Regions from separate parts of the Homo sapiens genome. Here region 2 is linked to region 1. The links come from fine-mapping of genetic effects on gene expression. A gene starts in region 1. The other region holds a variant in brackets. All regions are shown on one strand. Distances are between the middles of the regions.

Region 1 (8,332 bases):
TCATCTCTAAGGTAGGAATCACCCTCCGTACCCTGCCTTCCTTGACAGCTTTGTGCGGAAGGTCAAACAGGACAATAAGTTTGCTGATACTTTGATAAACTGTTAGGTGCTGCACAACATGACTTGAGTGTGTGCCCCATGCCAGCCACTATGCCTGGCACTTAAGTTGTCATCAGAGTTGAGACTGTGTGTGTTTACTCAAAACTGTGGAGCTGACCTCCCCTATCCAGGCCCCCTAGCCCTCTTAGGCGCACGTGAAGGGAGGAGGCCGGATGGGCTAGAGGTTGGAGTAAGATGCAACGAGGCACTATTCTTGGCTCCACCACTTGATATCAGCCTCAGTTTCTTACATGTAAAGTGGATACAACCGTACCCCCTCCACCGTAGGTTTGCCGTGAGATTGAAATGAGAGAGCGTTCGAACCGTTTGGCACAGCACCTGCACGTAAAGATGCTTGATCAATGTTGTCATGATTACAGTTGAGCTGACTGGGCCCTTGGGACCCGGACTGGAGTGGTGGGGGGCAGTGTCCTGGGACCAAAAAGAAGCACAAGGTCTCCCAATAGAGGCTGCTTCCTTTGTGTCCCCACCACCCGAAAGATGTCAGGTCAGAGAGCCCGAGAGCTGCAGATGGCTTGAGTAGGGCTCCACTCTTCAGATCAAAAAACTGTGGCCCGGAGAGGCGAAGGCACTTGGCCAGCATCACAGAGCCAGCACGTGGCAGGGCCAGACCTTGAGCCCAGGTCAGCTGCGTGTATTCTGCTCAGTTGGTGCAGAAAACAGTTTTGTCACTCCTATGTCAGGTGTTAGGGACTCCTTTACAGATCTCAGTGGCATCAGTACATCCAGCCCCACCTGGAGACTGCTTTCTCTCTGAAAATTCCCCAGGGCTTCTCTCTGGGCTGAGAGATCTCAGCACCCGTATCTAGAAAATGTTCCCACCCAGACCTGGCTGGATGACTGCTGTTGTAGCTCTGGAAGGTTAGGAACTAAAAAGCCCACTCCTTTACCTAGGGTAGCTAAGATACACTGGAGATGGGGACATGGGGATGGGGCCGATTATCCAGGGGCCTGCATGAGGGGGCAAAAGGCCCTGCAGAGAGAGGGTAGGGAAGGCACTGCCCAGATCTGTGAAGCCATGTGCGTGCACGCGGGGACATTCAGACATGAGTGCAAGGAGGGACCGTGAGCAGGGAGGTCATGTGAGAATACACAGGCATGCCTGCACACCCATGTGAACTTGAGTGCCAGGCCACACACTCTTTTTTTTTTTTTTTTTTTTTTAGCTGGAGTCTTGCTCCGTCGCCCAGGCTGGAGTGCAGTGGCATGATTTCGGCTCACTGTGACCTCTGCCTCCCAGGTTCAAGCGATTCTCCTGCCTCAGCCTTCCTAGTAGCTGGGATTACGGGTGCAAGCCACCATGCCCAGCTGATTTTTTTTGTATTTTTAGTAGAGACAGGGTTTCACCATATTGGCCAGGCTGGTCTCAAACTCCTGGCCTGAAGTGATACGCCCACCTCAGCCTCCCAAAGTGCTGGGATTACAGGCTTGAGCCACCGCACCCGACCCGCGCACTCTTTTCAATAATCATGGATGGCCAGGGGTGCAGGGTCTAAAAAGCGCGGCCTAGCCCATCCTGCTGTTCACTGGGCAAGCGACGTCACAGGTCCAGGCTTCAGTGTCCTCATCCATGCTCTGCGTCTGATGGCAATCTAGCCAGGATGTGGGGAAGGGAGGATGCAGTGAGAGCACAGATATGAGAGCATCTTGGAAATAAAAATGTACCTGCAAGAGGTGGTGGTGAATTTTCTTACTCAGGCCAGCTTCTGCCAGGGCTGGCAGAAAGAGGGGGTGGCATGGCATGGAGCCGCAGGGGGTGGAGGACTGGCTTCCACTGCTGTGCCTGAGGAAGCCGCGGCTGTTTCTGGGCGGGATGGGAGTAGTGGGAGGGGGATACTGGCCTTGTGAGAAGAAAAGGGAAGTGTCTGTTTGAGAGGTTTTTGAATTAGTAAAGGAGGACAGGCGCAAACTCCAAGCGCTTCACTTGCACCCGGGACCAAACCCCAATCCCAGTGGCTGGCTCCCTGAGGCCGCCCCGCTCCGTCCCGCCCCGCTGACAGCGGCTGGGCTGGAGAAGGCTCTATACGGACACACCTCTGGGGACGGGGAACCCACTGCTCCCAGCTAAAGCAACCCTGTTTCCTGGCCCGCCTCAGACAGGGCTGCAGGCCTTGTTTGAGCCCCTTTCAGGGCACCTGGCCTTGGATTGTCTGTGGCTTTGCCTGGTCCGCTGTGACTTCCTTTCTACTTGAGCCTTGCTAAGGCAGACTCTACTCCCTCACTCGTAAGCAGCCAGGCGTCCAGCAGGTCCTCCAACGTCGATCTTGGCCCTAAGACGTCCAGTCTGGGCACGGAGTTGTTGAGATCCGGCAGGAAGTCCCTGCTCCAGGGCCAAAGGCCCCACCCGGGCTCCCCCGGATGTCCCCGCACCCCCCTCTATTCTCCCAAAAGAAAGAAGCTGCTTCCCACTTTGGAAACGTTTATTCTGAGCACCGGGAAGGGGGGCGGCGGCGGGCGCCTCACTGGGTGTTGAGCTTCTTAGTGTACTCCTCGAGAGCGCTCAGGAAGCTGACCTTGAAGCTCTCCAGCACGGGCAGCAGGCCTTGGCGGAGGTCCTCGAGCGCGGGCTTGGCCTTCTCGCTGAGCGTGCTCAGATGCTCGGTGGCCTTGGCGTGGTACTCGGCCAGTCTGGCGCCGCCGTTCTCCTTGAGAGCCTCAAGGCGCGCGGCCAAGCGCTGGCGCAGCTCGTCGCTGTAGGGGGCCAGATGCGTGCGCAGCGCGTCCACATGGGCGCGCGCGCGGTCGCGCATCTCCTCGCCCAGTGGGCTCAGCTTCTCTTGCAGCTCGTGCAGCTTCTGGCGCGCGCCCTCTTGGAGCTCTGCGCGCAGCGGCTCCACCTTCTGGCGGTAGAGCTCCATCTCCTCCTGCCACTTCTTCTGGAAGTCGTCCAGGTAGGGCTGCACCTTGGCCTTCACCTCCTCCAGATCCTTGCTCATCTCCTGCCTCAGGCCCTCTGTCTCCTTTTCCAGGTTATCCCAGAACTCCTGGGTCACAGGGCCGAGCTGTTCGCGCAGCTTGCTGAAGGTGGAGGTCACGCTGTCCCAGTTGTCAAGGAGCTTTAGGCTGGAGGGTGAGACAGAAGGGTTGAGGGCTGGCCTCCCAGCGCCCCAGCCTATCAGGGGTGAGCCCTGGGTGACACCTGTCCGCGGAGGTGCAGTGGCCTAGCATTTCCAGTACACTCTCAACCAACACCCCTGCCCCGCCAGGCCATGCCCCGTTGTGCAGCTGGACCGAGGCACAGAGAGGAGCTAAAAAGGAGACAGAGCTGGGACTAGTGCCCAGTTACGTTGGTCTCCAAAGTGGGCCCTTGAAGGACCTCGCTTCTATGCCTCCAGCGCATTCTCCTCTCCGAAGACAGCCCACAGTCTTGCTGGGCAGGAGCAGAGGAGGTGGTGAAGAAGGGAAAGGGGCTTGCTACACTTGCAGGCACAATGTGGCTCTGTGATCACGCATCGGGCAGCCCTGGTCTGTCCTTTGCAGGGGACATGGGCTGTGACCCTGCCTGGAGATCCCATTCCAGTTTCTCCATCCAGACCATCTGTGGGGCCCAGCTCATCAGATATTAGGTGAGGACTCGGCCAGTCTGGCTTCAACATCATCCCACAGGCCTCTGCCCCCTACCCCTGCCCTCAACCCCAGGCTGGGTCCTTACTTTAGCTGTTTTCCCAAGGCGGAGCCTTCAAACTGGGACACATAGTCTCTGCCGCTGTCTTTGAGCACATCCACGTACACAGTGGCCAGGTCCTTCACTCGATCCCAGGGGCTCTGGGGGGGTTCATCTTGCTGCCAGAAATGCCGAGCCTGGCTCCCTGAGGGTGGGAGGGGAGACCCAGATCAGGCCAGCTGTGGGCTGAGATCTGAGCCGAAAGGCCAAGCTTGGAGGTGGGGGAGAGGGGGCCAGTGAGAAACCTGCTGCCTCTGCCCAGGAGGGTGGGCCACGGGGATTTAGGGAGAAAGCCCCCCGATGGTTGGCTCCCTAGGTTAGGGGACACCTACCCGTCAGGAAGAGCACGGCCAAGGTCAGCACCGCAGCTTTCATCCTGAAGGGCCGTGGGGGACCTGGAGGAGAAGAAGGGCCTGGCTGAGTGGGGTGCCTTCAGCATGCAGAAGCCCCGTGCTCCCCCACTCATTGCAGCCAGGTGAGGAGAAGGGCACAGAGCGGGAGAAGACCTCAGGTACCCAGAGGCCCGGCCTGGGGCAAGGCCTGAACCTTGAGCTGGGGAGCCAGAGTGACCGGGGCAGGCAGCAGGACGCACCTCCTTCTCGCAGTCTCTAAGCAGCCAGCTCTTGCAGGGCCTATTTATGTCTGCAGCCAGGGTCTGGGCTGGGAGGCTGATAAGCCCAGCCCCGGCCCTGTTGCTGCTCACTGGTCCTGGCAATGTGGAACTTAAGAGTTCAAGGATCAGCTCTGTCCCTGGGGCTGGGCAAATAGAGTGGGCAAACAGCAAGCTGCGGGGGCTGCAGGGCAGGGGTCAAGGGTTCAGTGGGGGCGGGAGGGGAGTGTCTGCAGGCTTGCAGGTCTCCCGGGTGGGGTCGGGGTTCCCTGCACTCATCCCCTTCCCCTCCATGGGAGTGTGTGGGCAGTTGCCATTGTCCATTGTGTTGGCAGAGGAGGGGAGGGGAGGGACGCTGGGACTCCTCCACCAAGGAGACTGCCTCCCCCACCACCAGCATTCCAGGGAGACTACTTCACTCCCCTCCCCCTTCCCCCGCCCTGTCCTCCCACCAGTGCTCTTCTTTAGTCCCCAGCAGGTCCTCCAGGCCTCTCTCCAAGCCTCCCAAACTGGTAAACCTGGGGAGAGGGGAGAGCCCTCCGTGGCTCCCAGACTGAGGTTTCGGAGACCTCTTGCATTTCAAAACACTCCAGAGATCAATTCGGAGCTGCCAACTTTTAATTTTGTCATGTAAAGATATTGTCCGCCTCCAAAAAACCCTCACCATCTACAGTGACCATCACTTCAAAAAGGAAAGGCTTTAACAAAAAAGGGCATAATCTCAGAATTACATTACAGAATTGAAGCCCCTTAGATTGAAGACGTCTCCCTTTGCATTGTTCACACTTATATTTGATCACGCACAGGTGTGACTGGATCTCAGCCCTTGGGAAGCCCTGGTGTGGGGAGAAGACCTCTGGGCAAAGGAAGTGGCAGGAGACCTGCTTTCTCATTTCACTTGGCCTCCATCTTGCTGGAGGAAGATCGTGGGCAAGTTATATAATCTCTCTGAGCCTCGGTTTTCTATCTGCAAAATGGGGCAAGAATGGTCAGGGTTGTTGGAGGCCCCTGAGACAGCCTGTGAATGTAAAGTGCTGTGTGTCCGTTGGTGTTTGCAGCACCATCTTGTCAGGTTTCTCCTGGAAGGCCCAGACCTCCCCCAGCAGGTTACTGATAGGACCTGAGTCCTAGAGCCTGTGATGCAGGCTGAGAGGAACTGTGACATCACTCCAGCCTCTCCCCATGCCACCATCTCACAGATGAAGAGACTGAAGAGCACAGAGGGACTTTGCCCAGAGGCTGTCATCTCTCAGGGAGTTAGAAGAAAGGCTGGACCTAGAACCCAGTCTCTGGACTTGGGATGCAGGGCAGAAATGTACCCTGTACCATCACTCCAGGAAACTCCCTAACACTAGAAACCAGGCTGACATCTCTGTTTACCAGATCAGGGAGTGGTCGGCCTCATGCCTTTCACTTCAGAGAAGATTCTGGAGCCAGAAAACCTCAAATCTAAGGGTCAGGCAGGTTCAAATCCAGCTGCCTGACCCTGGATGAGTTATGATACATCACCTCCCCACACATCAGTTTCTGATTGAAGATAATGATAGAATATGCCATCGCCCTGAGTTATGGCAGGGGTTACTGTGTGGCAAGCAGAATAACGCTCCCCAAAGATGTCCACAGCCTCATCCCTGGAACCTGTGGCTTTGCTACCTTCCATGGCAAAAAAAGATTTTGCTAGTGTGATTAAGGACCTGGAGATGGGGTGGTTGGCCTGGATTCTCCAGGTGGGCCCATTGTCATCACAGGGGTCCTTAATTATACAAGAGGGAGGCAGTGGCCTCAGAGTCAGAGAAAGAGATGTGAGGATGGCAGTGGAGATCAGACTCGTGACTGCTGGAAGGGGGCCATGAGCTGAGGGACATGAGCAACCCTTCCCTAGAAGCTGGAGAAGGCAAAGGATTTTTCCCTGCAGCCTCCAGGAGCACAGCTCTGCTGCCACCATGATTTTAGCCCAGTATGACCCATTTTGGACTTCTGTCCTCCATAACTGTAAGATAATAAATTTGTATCGTTTTAAGCATGAACTTTGAACATATATGCAAAACTGTTAGAAAGGTACCTAGCACTTAGTAAACAGTAACTATTCTGTTTTCTAGAATCCCAGTTTCTGGTAATGTATTCCCTTATTCCCACTACACTTGCTTTATCAGATCTGAGACCTCAGCTTCTGCAGCAGGCATGAAGGCAGCAGTCCCACATCTCTCTGCTTGTCCTTGACTTGCAGTTGCTGAGATATGGAACATCTTTTCTAGGACTGAAGTGGCCCCAGATGTCTATGGGACTGTGTAGACAGGGAGGTGGCCTTGGTGAGCCATCAGCCTGGGCTGCCTACTTGACCATCCCAGCTGTCTGTAGCTTTAGAAAGTGGGAAGGTGGCTGGTCCCCTGCTGGGACAGCTCACAGGTGTCTCGGGCCAAGAGAGCGTCTTTTCTTTTGGGGGGTAGAGTTTGTCCCAGTCAGCACATGGGGGAATCTCAGAAGCTTACTGGTTGGACTCCAAGATACTTGCCAGTGTTTCACCCTTCTCTTTGGTTTGTTACTAAAATGATTGTTATGGCTAAACCTAGTATTTAACATTTGCGCAGTTCTTTGTGGCCAAAGCACTTTCACAACTTAGAATATCCCTATAAGGCTGGAGGCCAGATTTTACCCTTGTGATTTTTGCCTGTGGGAAAACTGCAGCTCACAGCTGCCCTGCATCCTTCAGCGGTTACTATTTAGCGCTGGCAGGGGTGGGAATCGGGAGGCCTGGCTTCTAGTTCTTTGAGGGTGGCCTTGCACCCTTGCGGAGCCTGCAGCCTTTGCAGTCTGATCAGGGACTTCTCAGTTTCCTGGCTCAGGGACTGCGAGGCATCAGGATAGGGGGTGCTGTTGAACAGCATCTTACCAAGCAGGCAGTTTCCTTTTCTAAATATACTTATTCACCAGGGTGGCTACTCCATTTTATTGCAAGGTATTTGGCTTAAACTAGTCTAAGCCCCCTTTACTAATATTTTGGAAAGGAAGGAGGTCTTTCTGGACAGAGCTGATGGAAAAATACATAACAACAACAACGACAATAACAAACTGGGTTGATGACACACTCAGACTCAGGGTCCAGCCAGGCATTGTTCAAGGCACTCAGTGGCCACGGGTTGGACTGTTTGGTGGCTGCGGGGCCCACAGTGTAGGCCCCTGTTTCCACCCATTTCTTTCCCTCGTCTTGGGAGTCTCCAGAGCGACTGCTCCTGAACAGGGTTACCAAGTCCTGGCCCTGGATGCCCTGACATGTGTAGGAGTGTTGGCGGTGACCGCAAGAGTGGATTTTGCACAGAAAGATTAGCAACTCCTTTCACAATTTATGTCCAAACATACTGGTCCATCTGTATCGGGAGGACTCTGTCCCCTGCTAGGTCTGGCACATAACAGACACCTGCCAAACATCTGCTCAGTGAATGGCACTGGCACCCTAGAGGGAGGGTCACCAGCCTGGTCATAGGGAGGAGTGGGTCCTGGGAGGGGAGGCAGTCTCATACCAGCCCCTGCTCAGAACGTTTCTTCTGGGAGCACGTGGTATGAGCCAGAATGAGAGTTAGGGAGGGGAGGTGGTGACTGAGCAGGGGAGACAGGACCCCCACCCCCAGTAGTTCCTACTTTTGGCAATTTTGCTGCAGCTTTTGTGATAGAGCCCCAAGTTAGACCCTTGGGTGGGGCACCGTAGCCAGCTATGCAAGATTCTCTCCTGCCCTCCTGCTTGGAAAAGACTAAGGCCAGGACAGAGCTCATCTTTGATCAGCAGGAGGGAAGCACAGTAGCCCTCTGAGTTCTTGATCTTTGCAGTTGGGGTGGGGTGGGGGCTGGCACAAAGTCAGAAAGAAAACTGTGTAGAGCACGGTTTTCTGTCAACATGGCTCCTGTTTTCTGGAGCTAAGCTCTCCAGTCTGTATCCAGGAGCC
Region 2 (8,332 bases), 22 kb before region 1:
ACGTCAGGCAGAGTTGAGGGCAGGAGACCTGTACTAGCAAGAGGATTAAATCAAAGTATACCCTCTGAAATGCTGAATCACCCTCCTGCTTCTTCCACTTGGCCCCAGGGACACTGTATTCAGGCCTTTACCCTCCAGGCAGAAGAGTGAAAGACATTTCTTAGGGGAATATGTCCAGCTCAAGAGGTAAGACCCAAAGATTTTCACAATGGGGTTCCCCAGCTAAACATCTCAGTGGATCACCCTGCAGTGACATTCATAGTCAATAAGTACTACGCACGTATTGGAGCTTCAAATCACCTTTAAAATCTCCCATTCTTTTCTTTTTTCTTTTTGAGACAGAGTCTCGCTCTGTCACCCAGGCTGGAGTGCAGTGGTGCGATCTCGGCTCACTGCAAGCTCTGCCTCCCGGGTTCACGCCATTCTCCTGCCTCAGCCTCCTGAGTAACTGGGACTACAGGCACCTGCCACCACGCCTGGCTAATTTTTTGCATATTTAGTAGAGACAGAGTTTCACCATGTTAGCCAGGATGGTCTCGATCTCCTGACCTCGTGATCCACCCACCTTGGCCTCCCAAAGTGCTGGGATTACAGGCGTGAGCCACCGCTCCCAGCCCAAATCTCCCACTCTTAAACTTAAGCAACCAAGGATTACCAGTCATTTGAGGAAAGATTCTAACATGAAAGATAGAGACCCAAAACAAACAAATATTTAAAAAGGAAGTTAGAGAAAACTGAGAATATACAGAAAGAAGAACATTGAAAAATGCCATTAATAACATCAGAGAATGAAAAGATTACATTGATTAAACAAGAACAGGATAGTATAAAAAGACCTTCACAGAATAACAATAACAAAAACTCTTAGAAATTAAAAAAAAGATAGTAGAAATAAAAACTGAATAGAGAGTAAAGAAATAGTTCAGAAAGGGAGAGCATGTAGAGATTGAAGTAAGAACAAAGATAAGAAAATGAGAGGATCCACGCCGGGCGCAGTGGCTCACGCCTGTAATCCCAGCACTTTGGGATTTAATATAAATATATTAAATATTTTAAATAATATAATTTTAAATAATATAAATATATTAAATATATTAAATATTTAAATATATTAAATATTTAAATCTTTTTGTCTTGCTGAGTTGTATGAGATATATATATATTTATATATAAATATAGATATAAATACATATAAATATAAAAATATATATATATCTCATACAACTCAGCAAGACAAAAAGATTTATTAAATTCATTCAGTCAACAAATATTTATTGAATACCTACTAAGTTCTAGTCATCATGCTAGGCACTGACTGTTCAAGAATAAACATAGACAAGACTTCTGCCCTTTCAGAAACCAGCCAAGATTCTTCAACCCAAGGCAGCTGTGAAGTATAACACATCTCTGGCTCAATTTTCTCCATATGGTTTGGGGTTCCATGAATGAGTCTGTGGGAAGATTTCCTGTACGTAGAATGCATGTATAAAGGAATAATTATTCTATGGTTCGAAAGAGAAAAAAAGTAAGATCAAAGTGTAGAAGCTATGTTAAGAAAGATTCCAGTTTAATGATTTTTGAAAGAGCAGTAAAAATAAGACCAAGATGTGGAAGCTGTATTGAGAAAGATCCAATTTAATTCTAATAATCTTTAACAGAATTGCCCAAAGATAGAATGAATTGTTTTGAGAGATGGTACAGTTAGCTGTCAGTGGGAGTGTTCAATACTAAGCAAGATTCACTCGCTCAACCATTGAGTGATGACCACATGCAGGCACTGTGCTAGGCTCTCTGTATTTTCAGTAAGCTATTGTTGTACAACAAAGCACCCTAAAACAGTGTCTTAGAACAACAGTAAATGTTTATGATCTCTCACAAAGTCTGTGGGTCAGCAGCTTGGCTGTGTGTTTCTGGTTCAGAGTCTGTCATGAGGTTGCATCTGAAGGCTTGGCTGAGGCTGGAGGATCTGTTTCCAAGGTGAATCACTTTACATGGCTGGCAAGTTGGTGCTAGCTGTTTGGAAGGGGCTTCAGTTCCCCCCTGTGTTGACCTCTTCACAGGGCTGCTTGCACGTCCTCCCAACATGGCAGCTATCTTCCCTCAGAATGAGTGATCCAAGAGAAATCAAGGTAGGTGCCACAATGCCCTTTATGATCTAGACTTAGAAGTGAAATACCATGACATAGCCTATTGATCACACATCAGCCACCATTGTGAGGGCTAGCTACCACATCCTGCAAATACAATGATGAACAAACAAATGGTGTGCCTGAGCTCGAGGGCTGTTAGCCTAGAGTTAAGATCATTCCTTAAATGATATCAAAGGAATTAGGGCTGAGAGACAAGGTTGTTCCCTCCAACCCTAATGCCCTGTGATCTTATGATTCCAGGTCCTAGGTCTTTTGTTCCCATATCACCAATCCATTATCTCAGAACCAGCAGCTCACCAAACCCTCGCTCCTCAGATGTGGGCCATTCGGGGGTTTTTATTGTGCCCCTGCATTGTCAGCTACTTGTCATCACACAGCAAGATAGCATGACTCCACCCTGCACGCTCTCAGACAGGAGACAAGGGAGTGCCCAAATAACCCTAAGCTTGTTGTTTCTGTCCCCAGGACATACCTCAGCCTCCTCCTGGGAGCACAGGGCATACTATGATAACAGCAGGAGGACACGGCGTCCCCATGCAGGAGCTGCTTTTGATCCTGCCAGGACAATCCCTCAAGAGCAGCAAGGCCCTGTATGTACAGGAAGAGAGTGGCCCTCAGATCACTTCCCTTTGCCCTAATCAGGGCCACGTAGTACACCAGAGACCTCAGGGGTAGTGACCCTGGATGTTCTCAGAGGACTTCTGACCTTTGAACTTGGGGATGGGCATAGGAGTGTGGCTAGCATCTCAGCCTGGCCCAAACCAGTGCTGGTCAGCATGCCTTTGAGGCACTAACCCAGGCCCACAGAGGAGTCATCTACTTCCAAGTCACCTGAGGAGCCAGTGGTGACCAGGGAGATAATGGCCTGAAATTGTGCTGGCTCTGAGGGACTGTTGGGTAAGCTAATGTGGGCTGGGCTGGAGTTCAAACACACCTCCCTGGTGCCCACAGGGACCTCCCAGCACACGCTCTCCTATGGGTCTCAATGATTCAGTCTTTCCTGGTGGCATAGACTGTAGCCTGGAGAAGCTCTGGGGAATATTTCTTTTCTTACTTATTTCTGGTTTTAAAAGTACTACTCTCAGGATGACTATTGTTAAAAACAAAATAAAACAAAACCAAAAAATAACAGAAAACAACAAGCGTTGGAGAGGCTGTGAAGAAATTGGAACCCTGGGCGTCACCAGTGGGAATGTGAAATGGTGCCACTACTATAAAAAAACAGTTTGGC[G/A]GTTCCTCCAAAATTTAAATATAGAATTACCGTGTGACCCAGCAATTCCACTTCTGGATATTTGCTCAGAAGAATTGAGAGCAAGGACTGGAAAGATATGTGTACACCCCCATTCATAGCGGCAGTTTTCACAATTGCTTAATGGATAGAGTTTTCTGTTTGGGGTGATGAAAAGATTTTCAGAAATAGTGGTGGCGGTGGTTGCACAACATTGTAAATGTAATTAATGCCACTGACTTGAACACCTATAAATAGTTTAAATGGTAAATTTTATGTTATAAAAGTAATACTAAAGTGGTGGCATTTTTTTCTTTTCTTCTTCTTCTTTTTTTTTTTTTTCTTGAGACAGGGTCTTCCTCTGTTGCCCAGGCTGGACTGCAGTGGCATGATCTCAACTCACCCCAGCCTCAACCTCCTGGGCTCAAGCAATCCTCCCACCTCAGTCTCTCGAGTAGCTTGGACCACAGGTGTGCACCACCACACTTGGCTAATTTTTGTATTTTTTGTAGAGACAAGTTTTCGCCATGTTGCCAGGCTGGTCTCGAACTCCTAGGCTCAAGCAATCCACCTGTCTCAGCCTCCCAAAGTGCTGGGATTACAGGTGTGAGCCACCACACCTGGCCTAAAATGGCATATTTTTTTCTTTCTCTTCTTTTTTTTTTTTTTGGAGACAGAGTCTCACTCTGTCACCCAGGCTGGCAGTGGCATGATCTCGGCTCACTGAAATCTCCGTCTCCCGAGTTCAGGCGATTCTCCTGCCTCAGCCTCCCTAGTAGCTGAGATTGCAAGCACGCACCACAAAGCCCAGCCAATTTTTGTATTTTTAATAGAGGAGGGGGTTTCGCCATGTTGGCCAGGCTGGTCTTGAACTCCTGACCTCAAGTGATCCACCCGCCTTGGCCTCCCAAAGCGCTGGTAAAAAAAAAAAAAAAAAAAAAAAAAAAAAAATCCCATTCCACCACTTGCTAGGTAATGTACCTCACCATTCTGAAGTGCCTCTTCCTCATCTATTGTGTCTTTGATGTGATGGTCGATCATGAGAATTATATGAGCCAATATGGTAATATAAGGTGGTTTTTAAAAGCACCTCACACTACCAGCATTGCAGTCAGCAATGAATTGCCATCCTTGCATTGAAAAGCTCTACAACCGTTGCCACTGGGCATTTCTTATTGGCCATCATTTGTAGGGGGCTTTCACCTCCTCATGTATTCCCTGTTTTCCCTTCTGTGACCTCCCCTCCTTTCCTACTCTTCATTACCACCTCAAATGCCAGTGCAGGGAATGCACGGAACAATTGACTCCATCTCTCTGCCTTGTGGTCTCTTTCCAGCCAGTTCCTCTGGGTGTCCTGGTCAACAGCTAGCATGCACTGTCAATGACATTCTCTCTTTCAGAGGTATTCTAGGTCTAACTGTTAAGCTAACAGGATTTTCACTTCCTTACACGTTCACATACCAATATGTATGTGTGTTCCTTGACCGGGTTGTAAAGTACATAATAGTTGAAACCTTGCTTTTTTTTTTTTCATAAAATATCTTGGACATCTTCCCATAAATAAACAGATTCCCCAAACCAAACCAGAGTGTTTTGCTTGAACTCAGGACCTCATGAGAGATCTGAGACCAGCTGTTAGAGAATCTCTGAGAAGGGCAGGTAGAGGCTGTTGCCCAGGTCCCCAGTCAGCTCAGCCGCTGGAGAGGAGCAGAGGACTGACTGGCCACAGGGGGACTAAGTCCACCTGCTAGCTCAGAACAGGAGGAAGGCTGCTTTCCTTGGAAGATGGGACCAACCCTAATGAGGACTAATAAGTGTATCTCAGACAAACCAATTGACCAACTGGAACAGGCCAGAGATGAGGGTGTGTCTTCCAAGGCCCAAAGCAAGAGAAACATCCCTAAGAGGGAAGGGGTGTGTGGGGTGTGTCAATCAAAGTGATGTGTGTGTGTTTGTTTGTTTTTGAGACAGAGTCTTGCTCTTTCACCCAGGCTGGAGTGCAATGGCCTGATCTCAGCTCACTGCAACCTCCACCTCCTGGGTTCAAGCAATTTTCCTGCCTCAGCCTCCTGAGTAGCTGGGATTACAGGCGTGTGCCACCACACCTAGTTAATTTTTGTATTTTTAGTAGAGACGGGGGTTTCACCATGTTGGTCAGGCTGGTCTCGAACTCCCTATCTCAGGTGATTCACCCACCTCAGTCTCCCAAAGTGCTGGGATTACAGGCGTGATCCATCACGCCTGGCCTCAATCAAGGTTTTTAATTGCTAGCCACAGAAACCTACTCTGGAAGACATAATCAGAAGATGAACTTACTGACATATTTCCAGGAATTTCAAGGAAATGTCTAGGAAAGCTGGAGTACTTGGTTTGGAAAATAAACAAGAATAAGGGGAGCTGAGGGAGAAACATGGCCATGCTCATGCCACAGAACTAGAGTGATGGGGACGGCTGTGCTGTCACCACTGAGCCAGGATGGGGACAGCCCAGTTTGCCCACCAGCCACTGCCACGCCTGGTCCCTGGCCTGAGGCTCTAGCCTGGCCGCAAGCTGCCTGTTGCTGCCGCACTGTTCCTGCCCACCCCAGAAAAGATTCTCCACTGTCTCTGTTTCTTTACACCAGTCTGGGGCAATTACATCTGATTTGCTGAGCATAGGTCCCATGTCCCATGCTGGAGGTAAGCGAGGCTAGAAGGCAGGCGACTGGAGTTGTTAGTGTCTGTAATGGAGGCAGCCTCTGACTCCCACCAAAACTCATCAGCGAGACACTTTCGAAACAAAACAGGAGAGCTTCAGAGGCTGGGAAAGTGTCTTAGATCTTTTGGGCTTCTATAACGAGACACCAAAAACTGGGTGGATTACAAACAACAGACATTTATTCCTCATAGTCCTGGAGGCTGGGAAGTCTAAGAGCAAGGCACCAGCATATCCCGTGTCTGGTGAGGGCCCACTTCCTGGTTCATAAATGGCACCTTCTCGCTGTGTCCTCGCACGTGGAAGGGGCAAGGGATTTCTGTGGGGCCTCTTTTATAAGGACACTAATCTCATTCATGAGGGCTCCCCCTTCATGACCTGATCACCTCCCAAATGCCTTCTCTCCTAATGCCATCACCTTACAGATTAGAATTGCAACATAGGAATTTAGGGGGACGCAAACATTCAGTTCACTGCAGCAGCCAAAAGCAAAGTTACTACCAAGAGACCTCTGCCAGACCCAGGGGATTGATGAGACATCTTGGTACAGGAAAGAGAAGGCATTCCTCATCCAGGAGGACGAGGACTGTGGCAGGACCCTCAGAGACCTGCAGGATGGCCCTAAGGGTGGTGGGAGAGGTGCACGGGTCTAATCCAGGATTCATATATAGATATATTCATATCTATATTCATATAGATATGAATATATATATATGAATATCTATACATGAATATCTATATGAATATCTATATATGAATATCTATATGAATATCTATATATGAATATCTATGAATATCTATATATGAATATCTATATGAATATACATGAATATATGAATATATATGAATATATGAATATCTATATGAATATATATGAATATCTATGAATATCTATATGAATTATATATGAATATCTATATGAATATATATATGAATTATATATGAATTTATATATGAATATATATATGAATATATATATGAATTATATATGAATATATATATGAATATATATGAATATATATATGAATATATATATGAATATATATGAATTTATATATGAATATATATGAATTTATATATGAATATATATATGAATATATATGAATTTATATATGAATTATATATGAATATATATGAATATATATGAATATATATATGAATTATATATGAATATATATGAATATATATATGAATTATATATGAATATATATATGAATTATATATGAATATATATGTGTGTGTGTATATATATATATATATATATATTTTTTTTTTTTTTTTTTTTTTTTTTGAGACAGAGTTTCTCTCTTTTTGCCCAGGCTGGAGTGGTGCAATGGCGCGATCTTGGCTCACTGCAACCTCCGCCTCCTGGGTTCAAGCGATTCTCCTGCTTCAGCCTCCCAAGTAGCTGGGATTACAGGAGCCCACCACCACGCCCAGCTAATTTTTTGTATTTTTAGTAGAGACGGAGTTTCACCATGTTGGCCAGGATGGTCTTGATCTCTTCACCTCATGATCCACCCACCTCGGCCTCCCAAAGTGCTGGGATTACAGGCATGAGCCACCGCGCCCGGCCCAGGGTTCATATTAAGAACCAAGTTCTGGGAGACACTGAGGCCCCCAGGGGTTCTGGAGTCAGCACTAAACCAGGCAGCCCTCAGGTGAGGTCTGAGAGCATCTCAGAAGCTTCCAGACCCTCTTGGAACCCGGCCCACCCTGCATCTCACTTCCTTTTGGTGACTCGTTGCTCTGTTTGGCCTCATTGGCCCTTTCCTAAAGCCATCCAGTAAACCTCCAGGTGCCTGGTGGGTTTGTCAAGGTGTTTCCCCATAGGTTCCTGTGCTTCTAGTGGGGGTAGGTATCAAAGTGGCCGCAGCAGCCTTACTGGCCTGGTATGCAGGAGCGAGAGCAGCTGGGGCAGGGGAGACCCGGGGGTCTACCCTTGGCCAGCTGTGGCGGTCTCATTAATAGAGTGTGGCCTGGAGGTGAGCGGGATGAGGAAGTCACATTTACTGCAGCACCAGCTATTGCACGGTTATTCTGTGCCTGATGTTAAGTGCTTGACTCCGTTGCTCCATCAAACCTTCAGCACAACTCCTCTCTAAGCAGAGGATTGTCATTACCCATGTCTTCCAAAAGAAGCTCAATTATTCGCCCCACATCACCCGGTAGTCGGTCAAAAAGCCAGGATTCAAACCTAGGCTTGTCTGATTCCCAAGCATACATCCCTCCCACCAGGCCAGCACCAGGGGCCAGAGGG

What was found. PIP is the estimated chance that this variant, and not a neighbour inherited with it, causes the effect.
Region 2: its variant is fine-mapped to the expression of APOA1 in atrial appendage (GTEx, PIP 0.97).

Annotation. Positions count from the first base shown.
Region 1 is chr11:116,833,229-116,841,560 of GRCh38, forward strand. It overlaps APOA1 (apolipoprotein A1), which reads right to left and starts at 4,394. Exons shown (of 4, transcript NM_000039.3): 1 at 4,377-4,394; 2 at 4,117-4,179; 3 at 3,773-3,929; 4 at 2,523-3,183. The coding sequence starts at 4,159. The coding sequence ends at 2,580. It also overlaps APOA1-AS.
Region 2 is chr11:116,811,294-116,819,625 of GRCh38, forward strand. It overlaps LNC-RHL1 (lncRNA regulator of hepatic lineages 1), which reads right to left and starts at 2,889. Exons shown (of 2, transcript XR_007062898.1): 1 at 2,623-2,889; 2 at 1,616-2,160. The variant G/A (reference allele first, on the strand shown) is at 3,382.